Homo sapiens: one gene and its partners. The protein of the gene in region 2 interacts with the protein of the main gene of each other region in a biochemical or structural test. Each region holds a gene or a part of one and is shown on either strand. Other genes may lie near its edges. The genes, in order: MAPK12, SNTA1 and HTR2C.

Region 1 (3,747 bases), on a different chromosome or scaffold from region 2:
CACTTCTGCCCTGCACCCTGGCCCGCTCTCTACCTCTGCCCACCGTTGTGGCCCTGCAGCCGGAGATCTGAGGTGCTCTGGTCTGTGGGTCAGTCCTCTTTCCTTGTCCCAGGATGGAGCTGATCCAGTAACCTCGGAGACGGGACCCTGCCCAGAGCTGAGTTGGGGGTGTGGCTCTGCCCTGGAAAGGGGGTGACCTCTTGCCTCGAGGGGCCCAGGGAAGCCTGGGTGTCAAGTGCCTGCACCAGGGGTGCACAATAAAGGGGGTTCTCTCTCACTTGGCTTGTATCCAAAGGCTACTCCAGGCCCGGGTGCCCCCACCATCCCTGCTGCTGGGCGTGGGGGGAGTGTCTGGGTCATCCTGCATCACTCACCTCCAGCTGGCCAGATCCCTCAGGCCCCCAGTCAGACCAGCGGCCATCTTCTGGCACCCTCCCTGCTCCCTGGAGGGTCTGAGAGCCCAGGGGGACCAGGGGAAGACATGGCTGATGGGCAGACTTTGAGGGCACAGGGTGTGACAGCCACCCAGATGGTGACCCCAGCTGCCCTGTGGGGATGTACTGGGCAGGCTTGGCTTTGGGCCAAGATCCAGACACCACCCCCGCCTACCCCTCAGTGTTCAGGGAAGCTGGCTGGGGAGAAGTTGGGTGTCTCAAGGAGCAAGGGTCTGCCCATCCCTGGGTGGGGGCTGGGCAGGGTAGGGAAAATAGCTTTCCTTTCCCTCCTGGTGAAGGAAAAAGAGGCCACTTTAACCCAGGGAATGTGCACGCTGGTCCCGTTCCCACTACGCGCTGCAGCTTATGTGTGGGGGAGGGTCCAGGCCATTTGGGGTCAGGCAGTGTCTCTAAGGACCAGGGACAGTCTGTGCCCTTGCTTGGGTCTTGGGTAGGGGTGGAAACCGTCTGGGAGTTGGGGGCCTCCTGGGGCCTGGTCAGTGTAGTGGTCAATCCCGGGGGAAGTCCAGTGTTGGCGGTTGGGGGTGGGAGGAGAATGGTGACACAGCCCCACCTCAGAAGCCTGGTCCGTGCAGGGCCTGCTGGACCCCTGAGCCCCACCACGGGGAGTAAGGGGGACAGCGTGGAAGCTGGGCTTCCTGGAAGAGGTGGATGGAGTGCCACAGGCAGCCCAGGGCACAAAGGGTATGGGCCACAGGCAGCTGTGGTTTGGGTGGCCCTGGGCTGCCCCGCTCACTGGTCACGAGCTGGTGAATGCCGTGGAGCACGGCCCAAGCCCAGGTGTAAAGCTACTACCACCCTTGAGCGGCTGAGCTGCTGATTCATGGCAGGAGGGCGGGGCAGAAGGCCCTAGGGATCCTGTTACCCACCAGCCCAGTGGGCTCCTGGGGTGCCCCAACATCCCTTCTGAGATCCAGGTTCCTGGGCTGGTGAAGGGGTGTCAGGGTGGGGCTTTGCCCTCAGGAGCATCTGGTCCAGGATGGGGCCAGACCTATGGGAGGACAATGCCCACACAGAGGGGTCAGGCGGAGGGCCCCAGCAGGTCCCCATCCCTGCTGGAGAGAGTGCAGCCACTCTCAGCCTGGGTTTTGCAGGACAGGACAGGCAGGGGTGGGATGGGCAGAGACACCAGTACTTGCAATGCTTGGAGCAGGCACCCCACAGATGGGGGGAGCAGGGGGAGGAGCTGGGGGTCCAAAAGGGCCCACGGGGACCTATGGGACTGAGAGGCCCGGGGTCAGTGGCCACAGGAGTGGGGTTGGGGATGCAGCCTGAGGAGTTTGGGGGACAGACCCCTCCGTGTAGAAAGAGGGATACAGGCAGGACAGGTGCAGATGGACCCCTTGTTGGGGGACGGATGGATCAGGCTCAGTGGTAGGGCATCCTTGGGGGTGGCCTGCGAAGTTGACCCCGGGAACACAGGGCTCAGCCCGACTTGCGGCTGCCATAGAAGTCAGCGCTCAGGCTGTCAAGGATGGGCCCTGCGCCCTGGAGCCGTGGGGAGTTAGGACTGGAGCGGGCGGGGGGGGGGGGGGGGGGCTCCTGCTGAGACCCCCCCAGGGCGGGGAAGTTCAGCCAAAGGGGAGAGGCTGGCAGAGGTATCTCCGCGCCGCGTCCGGCCCTTTATGGGGACGAAGCTGCGGGGCGGCGCTCCCCTCCCCCTGCGCTTCCCCCCAGGCTCCGGCCCTCCCCAGGCTCCGGCCCTCCCCCGGCGGCGGCCGCCTCGGGTTTCCGGAGGGGCCGGAGGGCGGGCGAGGGCGTCACGTGCGCGCCGCCCGCGGGCCGGTTGGTCCCCGGGCGGGGGAGGGGCCGTGCGCAGCCTGGGTCGGGGTCGGGCCGGGGTCGGCACCTGGGACATCCCTGAGGGAAGGGCCGGGAGCGGGAGCGCCCCAGCGGCCGGCGGGCGGGCGGGCGAGCGGACGAGCGGCGCGGAGCCGGCCCGAGGCGCGCGCCGAGGGAGCCCCGTCCCCGGTCGTGGGGGCACCGCCCGCAGGCTCTGCGGGGTGGGCAGCTCCCGGGCCTGCCATGAGCTCTCCGCCGCCCGCCCGCAGTGGCTTTTACCGCCAGGAGGTGACCAAGACGGCCTGGGAGGTGCGCGCCGTGTACCGGGACCTGCAGCCCGTGGGCTCGGGCGCCTACGGCGCGGTGTGGTGAGCGCGGGCCGGGCGGGGCGGCCGGCGGGGCGGGCGGGGCCTGCGCGGGGTGCCCGGCCTTCCCGCTAAGCGGTCCGCCCCGCAGCTCGGCCGTGGACGGCCGCACCGGCGCTAAGGTGGCCATCAAGAAGCTGTATCGGCCTTTCCAGTCCGAGCTGTTCGCCAAGCGCGCCTACCGCGAGCTGCGCCTGCTCAAGCACATGCGCCACGAGAACGTGAGTCGCGCGGCCCCGCTCCGGGAAGGCGCCGCGGCCTCGGCTTGGTTCAGCTGGGCTGGGTTCCCCCACCCGGCAACCCCTCCTCCAGGCAGCCTGCTGTGGGGCCGGGCGGGGGTCGGGCCGTGGGTCCCCAGGGGAGAAGGAGAGCAAGGCCTGTCTCTCCTTGGGAGACGACTCCCCCAAGGGCCGTTCCCCATCCTCCGCCAGCCCCGGGAAGGACTCAGCCCCTTGACTCGGCGCCTCAGCCAGGCCCTGGTCAGGGAACACGACTTGGCCAGGCCCAGGGGATCCTCCAGGTCTCACGCCAAGCCTTGCCCCCAGCCAGGAAGCCCGCGGTGAGAGCATGCTCCCGGCGGGAGGATTTTCCTGGAAGGGGCACCTTCCCTCTTCCCCATCCCCTTTCCAGCCCCTCTGTGGAGCCCACTCTGCTGCTGTCCATCTCCCGAGTCTTCCGACCCGGTGGTGGAGGGGGAGGAGGGGGGCGCCAGAACGCAGGGAGTGTGTTGAACCCTCAGGAGCCCCTGGGGGTGAAGGGTTTAGGGAGCTGCTGTTTGAGGAGCACTGGGCGTGGTGGCCGCCTCACAGACACCCTCCTGTGCGTTGTGGGGGCCCATCCTTTCCAGTCCTTCCAGTGAGATGCCACGTACAGCTGCCCTGGGCCTCTCCCATGGCGGTGGCTGGCTGCTAAGAACCCGATCTCTCTGCCAGGGGTGCTCTGGTTTCTGGATACAGTCCCACTTGTCCACTGCCCCCCACGTCACTCCTGCCCTCCCCCTGGTCTGGGCCCAGCCTGAGGGCTGGTGGTCTGGGCACCCGGACCCTACCTACAGGGTGAGATGCTCTGGACCCTCCTGGGTCATCTGAGCCACCGGTGCCTTGGGAGAACGAGTCCCTGCGTCCACCAGCAAAGTGCCCCGTCCA
Region 2 (3,747 bases):
TGGATCATGAGACTAGTGTCCTGGGCACAGCACCTGGCACACAGTGGTGGCATTCACCACCATCCCCACCGCCTCAGCCAAGCCAAACGGTCTGGAGGCACTAGTCAACAGAACCAGTACCAGGGAGACCCCAGAGGGTACGGTATGTATTCAAGGTGGAGACAAAGGCTGATACCCTTTCCCAAAGCACCTGCTGGGGGCTGGGACCCTGAGAAACAGATGGGCAGGAATAGTGAACCCAGCAGCTGGGGGTGTGCAAGGATTTTAACAACTATGTTTAGTTGCTTTGGGAGTATCTGCTGGCCTCCATTTTTCCTCTCCGCTAACAGCAGTAATTAACTAGGCACCTACAGTGTGCTGGTGTGGTGAGCCCTGCTCTCAGAAACATCACAACTCTGTCATCCTCTTATACAGTTGAGGAAACAGATTCAGAGGCGGGACGGGACTTTTGCAACCTCACACAGCTGATCCTGGATTCAAACACAGTCTGGTTGCACCCTAACTGCACCCCACTAGCGGTCAGTCCTGGGGGCTGAAAGCTCTATCCTGTGCAAGGTGGAGATAGTCAGATCAGGAGACCCAAATCCAGCTGTCAGGGCTCCCTGCAGCCTTCCTGGGTCCTTAGATTCCTAGGTCCTTGCTGGCCTTCTGCCTGTGACCCCAGCCTGTGCCTGCACCCAGGCCTCCTATCCACCCCTGTGCTTCCCAGACTCCAGGCTTCCCCTCTGCACCCACCTTGGTTGCTTCTCAGGGACTCCCTCCTCCCTGTCCCACTGGTGTCCCGGCCTCAACCCCCTTTCTCCACACTCTGCTTTCCGGGGGACCCCTCTTGTCCTTGATGTTCATGCTGGTTACCCCTCAGACCCCCCCGCCTCCACACAGAACTCCCACCCACGTGTCCTTGGTGCTCCCACAATCTTATCCACACCTGTGTCTTCCGTGCCCCCTAAGGCCACCAACTACTGAAACCCCCTCCAACCTTGGTGTGCCCAGTGCCCTCCGTTACCTGTTTCCTCAGACCCCCCTTACCCCCAGACAGGAAGCCTCCAGCTCCATGTCCTGGGCGCGCTGCCAGCCCCCTGCGCCCTCGGCTGCCCCCAGACACCACGACCCCGCGCCCTCGGTGTCCCGCGCCCACCTTTGATGCTGATGCCCAGCCCACCGGCGTCGGCCTTGCGCACCGTCACGCGGCGCCGCTGGAGCAGTAGCGCCTCTGGCAGCTGCGGGGGCCCGGCGCCCGGCTCCGCGGCGCCGTTGAGCTGCGCGGGCTCCTGCTCCCGCGGAGCGCCGGGCTCGGGACCAGGGTCGCCGTCGGCGGGGCTCACGGTCAGCACGTCCTCCGCCAGACTCAGCAGCACCCGCTGCCATCGCTCGCCGCCGGCCCCCGAGCCCGCCCCGGCGCGCAGCTCCAGCAGCCCGGTGCGCGGGGCGCGCCTGCCGGACGCCATCTTCGCCTCCGAGCCCCCGGGCCGCCGCGCTCGCCCTGTCCCGCTTTGCCCAGCCCGCTCCGACCAAGCGCCCAGGGCAGAGGGCAGCGGGGGCCCGGCTGGGCCAGCCGCCACCCTACCCCGGCCGCTGGGGGAGGAGCTCTGGGGGCGGGGCTACCCTGGGGTGTGGCCAGTGCTGGGGAGGGGGCCTCGGGCAAATGCAGGAGGCCGGGGCGGGGCCCGGGAGCCGAGGGCCGCCGTGTGGGACTACCTAGCGGGGTGGGTCAGAAGGGCGGCGGGGCGGGCCACTAAGTAAGGCGAAAGCCCGGGAGGCGTGGTGCTGGGCGGGGCGTCAGGGGGCGGGGCTTCGCGTCGGGGGCGGAACCCAGTGAGCCCGCGCAGGGGGCTCGGCGCTCGGAATGCCCATCGAGGGCCGGGACTGTAACTCCCGGACGTGGGAGCGCATGAAAAAGAGACAGAACCACGTATCCTGGTGCGAAGCACTGGGCATCGGGCTGGGCTGCATATGGCGGAGGGCTGGGCTGCGTATGGTAGAGCGTTGGACTCCAAGGCTTGAGTTTAAGAGGTAGACACCGTCTGGGCGTGGAGGCTCACGCCTGTAATCCCAACACTTTGGGAGGCCTAGATGACAGCCCAGAAGCTCGAGGCTGCAGTAAGCCGCGATCGCGCCACTGCACTCCAGCCTGGGTGACAGAGCGAAACCCTGTGTCAAAAAAAAAAAAAAAAAAAAAAGGTAGATGCTGAGCCGCGAGAGACCTTGCGGGCACAGTTGCTAGTTGGGGAGCTGAGGAAGAAGTTGGTTTCCTATCGGGGAGGGCGGGGGATGGGGGGTGGGGGTCGAGGCTTTGGTCTGTGGGCGTGGCTTATCGCTGGCGTGGCTTCTAAAGATGACAGGCCCCGCCCCCTGGAGGAGACCGCTACCGACACCGCTTAGGGCTTGGGGGAGGTGTGGGCAGGATCCCCACTTCAAAACTGGAGGGAAGTTTAAGAGATTAACCCCTGGCTGTGTTCACAGTCGAGTATAGAAAAGCCTGAAGTCCCACACTTTGAGGCCTGGCAGAAAAAAAACAGAACTGGTGTGTGGGAAGAGGGTTGCAAGGTGGGGCTCTGGGTCTGGGCGACTGGAGACATGGTTTCTAATCTTTGCTGCCTCTGTTAGCTCCAAGTCGACTTTGGTCCCCTCACGTCACTGCTCTAGGCCTCAATTTCCTCATCTGTAAAATGTGGATCATAATAATACCTACTTCACTGGGCTGGTGTGAGGATTAAATCAATGTGAAAACACGTGGTAAACTGTGACTCCCTATTCTATAGAAATAATCACTTTCATTTAGTGAATGCTTACTCTTACCTAGGGCTGGCAGAATATTTTCCAAGTGTTATCTTTACATTAGCCTCCTGGAGTAGCTAAGAGCACCCCCAGCTGGGCACAGTGGCTCACACCTGTAATCACAGCTGAGGTGGCAGGATCGCTTGAGCCTTGGAGGTCCAGGCTGCAGTGAGCTGTGATTGCACCATCACACTCCAGCCTTGGTGACAGAGCAAGAAAAAAGAGCACCCCTATTATACAGAAGGGAAAACTTGGATTTAGTCTAATTGGCCTAGGTCACACATTTATGAGTGAGGAAGAGCTGCGATTCAAACCCAGGCCTGTTTGACACCAGTGCCTGGGCACTGAACCACTCTGCTAGACAGCTGACAAATACAGAGGTAAAGCATGATTGTAATCTGAAAAATCCACCACATCACACAGCTCAACTGGCCTTCATACCTGCTCCTTGTCTCTATCCTCCATTCCTAGCTGGGATATGTTGAGCAATAAATAAGTAGGACTACACCAGTGTTTAGCCTCCCTGAACTTTTGGGTAAAATCCTCCACATAAGATACCATCAAGAAAAAAAAGAGGGGGCCAGGTATGGTGGCTCATGCCTGTAATCCCAGCACTTTAGGAGGCCGAGGCAGGTAGATCACGAGGTCAGGAGTTTGAGACTCAGCCTGGCCAACATGGTGAAACCCCATCTCTACTAAAAATATAAAAAAATTAGCCGGGCGTGGTGGCAGACACCTATAATCCCAGCTACTCAGGAGGCTGAGGCAGGAGAATCACTTGAACCCGGGAGGCGGAGATTGCAGCAAGCAGAGATTGCACCACTGCACTCCAGCCTGGGTGATAGGGTGAGACTCCGTCTCAAAAAAAAAAAAAAAAAAAACCAACAACAAAAAAAAGGAATTGTTTTAAGTTAGAGTGGTAGGTGTCAAAACAGGAGAGACACAGGTTTTAAAAAAAGAACCCAGGGT
Region 3 (3,747 bases), on a different chromosome or scaffold from region 2:
AAAACAGTGTGGTAGGGCTAAGCTTTAGCTAAACTAATTTAAGAAGATTTATAATATTTTTATTGCCCTAAAATATGTTCAGAGAAATTACCTGAAATCATTTCAGGGGAAACTGTTATTCTGTTAGATGCCTTGAATTCTTGAATATTATTGTGCAGATGTGCTAAAAATTCTATTTTAGCTCTTCCTTCATCTTCTTTCACCTTTACTTTAACCATTGGAATACAATACAATCAATCAAGATATGTTAACTGATTACCTACTATGGGCAAGGCACTTATCATATATGTGGGCTAGTCAACAAAAGCTTCCTGCAAGAGGTGGGGCTTGAAACGGACCTTGAAGATCAGACAGAATATAGATACATTTGGGAGAGAAAGCTACATACCACAGTACTGGACTTCTCCAATCTTTCTAGCAATAAATTCTTTTTTAATCACGGATCAGGTTTTTTGTCAATTTAAAATGGAAGTAAGAAATGGAAGTAATTGGTTTGGTTTTTGAATTTTTAAAAACCTACTTTTAAAAAGACTTTAATCATATTTAGAATTTTTCCAAGTATGGTCTTTCTACCCTGAAATAACTTTAGTCTAAGTATTGTACTCAGATATGGTTTTTCTACCTGGGCTCAGATCAGTAAACTAAAAAACTGGCAGTTACTTTTTATAGCACCTATTTTCCAAGTCATAGCTATCAAATTACTTTTCCTGACTCTAGTATGAAAAGGAAATACATGGCAAATGGGATCAGACAAGACTTGAAACCTTCCTGATATATGATAAATAATTTTTAACACAAACTCAAGATTTTATTGTCTTCATAATAAAACAAAAGATGACACTTAGAAATGGATCACTTGGACCTTTCTCTTCTTATCTCTTCCCAGTTCAAAATGCTTGCATCTTTTAATGGCAGCATTCTCTTAGATTTGCAGTTGGGATCAGTGCACTCAAGCCTTAGCACAATATTCTTTGTAGTTTTAGCTTTTTTCCGAAAAATTGGCTTAGTCTGCCCACCATATTCACTGCGCTGCCTGTCATAATGCTGCTTTCCCTGGGCATACAGAGAATCTTTGCCCTTCTTGTACTGTGTCGTTTTGTGGGGTTGGTGCTAGCCACACTTCTTTAAGTCTTGTGAGTTTTAGGAACATTCACCATGTTTTCGGGAGCACTATCGGTACGGAAAGAGATAAACGATTTTTACTGATCCTTCTGTCAGTCGGTCTTAGACCTTCAGAGCTTCTATTTTACTGCTTGAATTTCAAGTAGGCAATATTATATAAATGACAAATATGAATGGCCTTTGTTGTGGTGTTACATGTAGTAGAAACCTGTGGGTCCAACTCACAGTAGTAACATCTGCCTGTCCAGTCATCTCTACATACAATAGCATTATTTCCCTGACTTCATTTCTGTCTTTGTATTATCTCTGTAACTCCCCTGAGCTTCACTCAGCTTCTTGTCCCTCAGTCTCTCAGCATTAACAGTACATTCTCATTTGCTCTACTTCTTTATTGGTAGGTGAATCTCTAGATGAAATGTTGCATGTCTGTCTCATTGCCTTGCCAAGCAGCATATCGAGGATTAATGGACATTGTCCATTAATATCCTCACATTTACATGCAAATTTGTTCTGTTAAAAGACTAGTTGTTACAGTATGAAAGAAAAATTAGCCAATTTCTAAACAGAGGCAATAGTTTGTTGTTTAACACCACGGCCTCTGGAATAAAACTGCCTGGTTTCAAGCTTGGTTTTGTTCATTCAGTTTGAACAGATTAACCTCTTTGTATGCCTCAGTTTCCCTAACTGCAAACTGGATAATAGTAGTACCTTCTCATGGGGTAGTCATCAGGCTTGTATGGTTATATACCTGTAAACCTCTTAGAACTGTGTAGTGCATGGTAAATGTCAATAAATAGTGGCCACTGTTACCATCTTTTATACCTCTCCTCTTAAGAATAATTACTTGCTAATTTGGGCAAGTCTTACTACTTTGATTACAGGAAGCTATAATTGAAGAGTATTCAGTGAGTCTTGATTACTGAGATAAAATGGGAGATACGTAAGTTTAAAATACACTTGCAAAAGATTTGAACACTGACATTTATTCGTAAGCGTTTACTGATTAGTTTAAAGAAGACATCATGTTTTATGAAAAAGTAAAGGAAATCCTAGCCAATTCATTCATTGCTATCCTTGTCTAGATATTAGTTGACATTATCTTTGGTTTCAGTGGTGTTCAGTTTTCACTTTTTATTTTTACATTGAGCTCAACCCCACACCTTGCCATTAACGCTAATTCAACTCTGAATTTAAATACCCATATATGGTGGCTGTTGCACTGGACAATGCAGTTCTAAAGGCTTTCTAATAGCTTTCAATAAATTTATGCATAGTTCTTAATAGGTAATAATAACAGTATGTTACCCAAAGGTGTACTTGTATTTAAAGGAGACAGTGACTAAGATGAAAGAGGGAAATTCCTGAATGTAGAATTTCAAGTTATATGGAAAACCATGAAGGCTACTAATTTAGGGACCAGAAGGCCTTTCGAGTGCTTCTCAAATTAGACCATGTAAGTGGTCATCTATGCATAAGGTTAACCATAATTAAGAAGAATGACTGTTTCAAATGCCAGCTATATGTACAATGCTATAATACGCAACTATTTTAGGAAACTGCAGATGACACTGTCTTAGCCACAGCTGAGAAGAGGAATGAATAGCGAGGTTGAAGTAGAGATGCCAGGTAGGAGACAAAAACAGAATTAAAATTCCATCTTGTGTATATCTTATTTGAAATCCTGATTTCACTATGTCGTTTGTGCATTAAAATGTCAGAAGTGATTAGCAAAGAGTTGTTGCAGGTGAGCATTAGTATTAAATCTGCTAATGACTTGCCAAATGATGATGCAGCTTAACCACTTGGTTGTTTTCAATGTTGTTTGTCTAGAATGGAGATGACTAGACTGTCTTGCAGCAATGTTCTCAGTATATGAAAAAGCCTTCTTAAAATGTCTTGAAGAATGGCAGTGTTGGAGAGATCCATAACTTGAGCACACATTAGACTGGAGATTGATGATTTCTTTTTGAGGTTCAACAGTACAATATGTAGATGAAATGACATAGGTAGCCTAGAATGCTAACAAATAAATAATAAATGTTGCTTAGTGCAATAATTTAAAATTTTCAAAGTGCTTAATACCCATCTGTTTCACAACAATCAGGTGGGGTTATATATGATACTGACATAAAATATCACAATAATATATTATTAACTTCAATTTATGATGAAGTTTTCCTAGTTTGCTCATGGCTACCAGGCAGCTAGAGGAACATAATTTAGCAGTTCTTCCACTAGACAATACTAAGCTGTATCAGATGCTTTACTAAAATAATCTCAGTACACGTACATCATCCTTTTGTGAGGTATTCCATTGCTATGAAAGTGAGGTGGTAAGATGCTCCTTAATAATACTGGACAAATAGTCTGGAGCTTCAGGAGCCATTAAAACCTGGGAATTAATTTATCTTTCAGCAGGCTCAGCAAACTGCAACCTCCTTCAATCTCAGGCCTTGAACAATTTAATAAGAATAGCTGAGGATATTTAATGTTGGTTACTATAATCTCTCCCCCAAATTTTGTTTTAATTTTTGTGTTTCCCTTAGCTGGAGAGGGATGACGTTTCCTTGAAGGAAATACATGGAACAGTAAAATTATTGAGGCTTGACTCAATTATAATGTTGG

Evidence for each region.
Region 1: of the proteins of SNTA1 (region 2) and MAPK12, one has a biochemical effect on the other in vitro, tested with the Homo sapiens proteins (2 studies listed by BioGRID and IntAct, with this or other methods).
Region 3: the proteins of SNTA1 (region 2) and HTR2C interact in a test that uses a peptide from one of them, tested with the Homo sapiens proteins (2 studies listed by BioGRID and IntAct).

What each region holds. Positions count from the first base shown.
Region 1 is NC_000022.11:50,260,243-50,263,989, reverse strand, and holds the start of MAPK12 (mitogen-activated protein kinase 12), read left to right. Parts: upstream 1-2,306; 5' UTR 2,307-2,480; coding exon 2,481-2,605; intron 2,606-2,693; coding exon 2,694-2,823; intron 2,824-3,747. UniProt on the Homo sapiens protein: Serine/threonine kinase which acts as an essential component of the MAP kinase signal transduction pathway.
Region 2 is NC_000020.11:33,442,173-33,445,919, forward strand, and holds the start of SNTA1 (alpha-1-syntrophin), read right to left. Parts: upstream 1,592-3,747; 5' UTR 1,449-1,591; coding exon 1,139-1,448; intron 1-1,138. UniProt on the Homo sapiens protein: Adapter protein that binds to and probably organizes the subcellular localization of a variety of membrane proteins. May link various receptors to the actin cytoskeleton and the extracellular matrix via the dystrophin glycoprotein complex.
Region 3 is NC_000023.11:114,587,030-114,590,776, reverse strand, and holds part of HTR2C (5-hydroxytryptamine receptor 2C isoform a precursor), read right to left. Parts: intron 1,188-3,747; exon of another isoform or gene 792-1,187; intron 1-791. UniProt on the Homo sapiens protein: G-protein coupled receptor for 5-hydroxytryptamine (serotonin).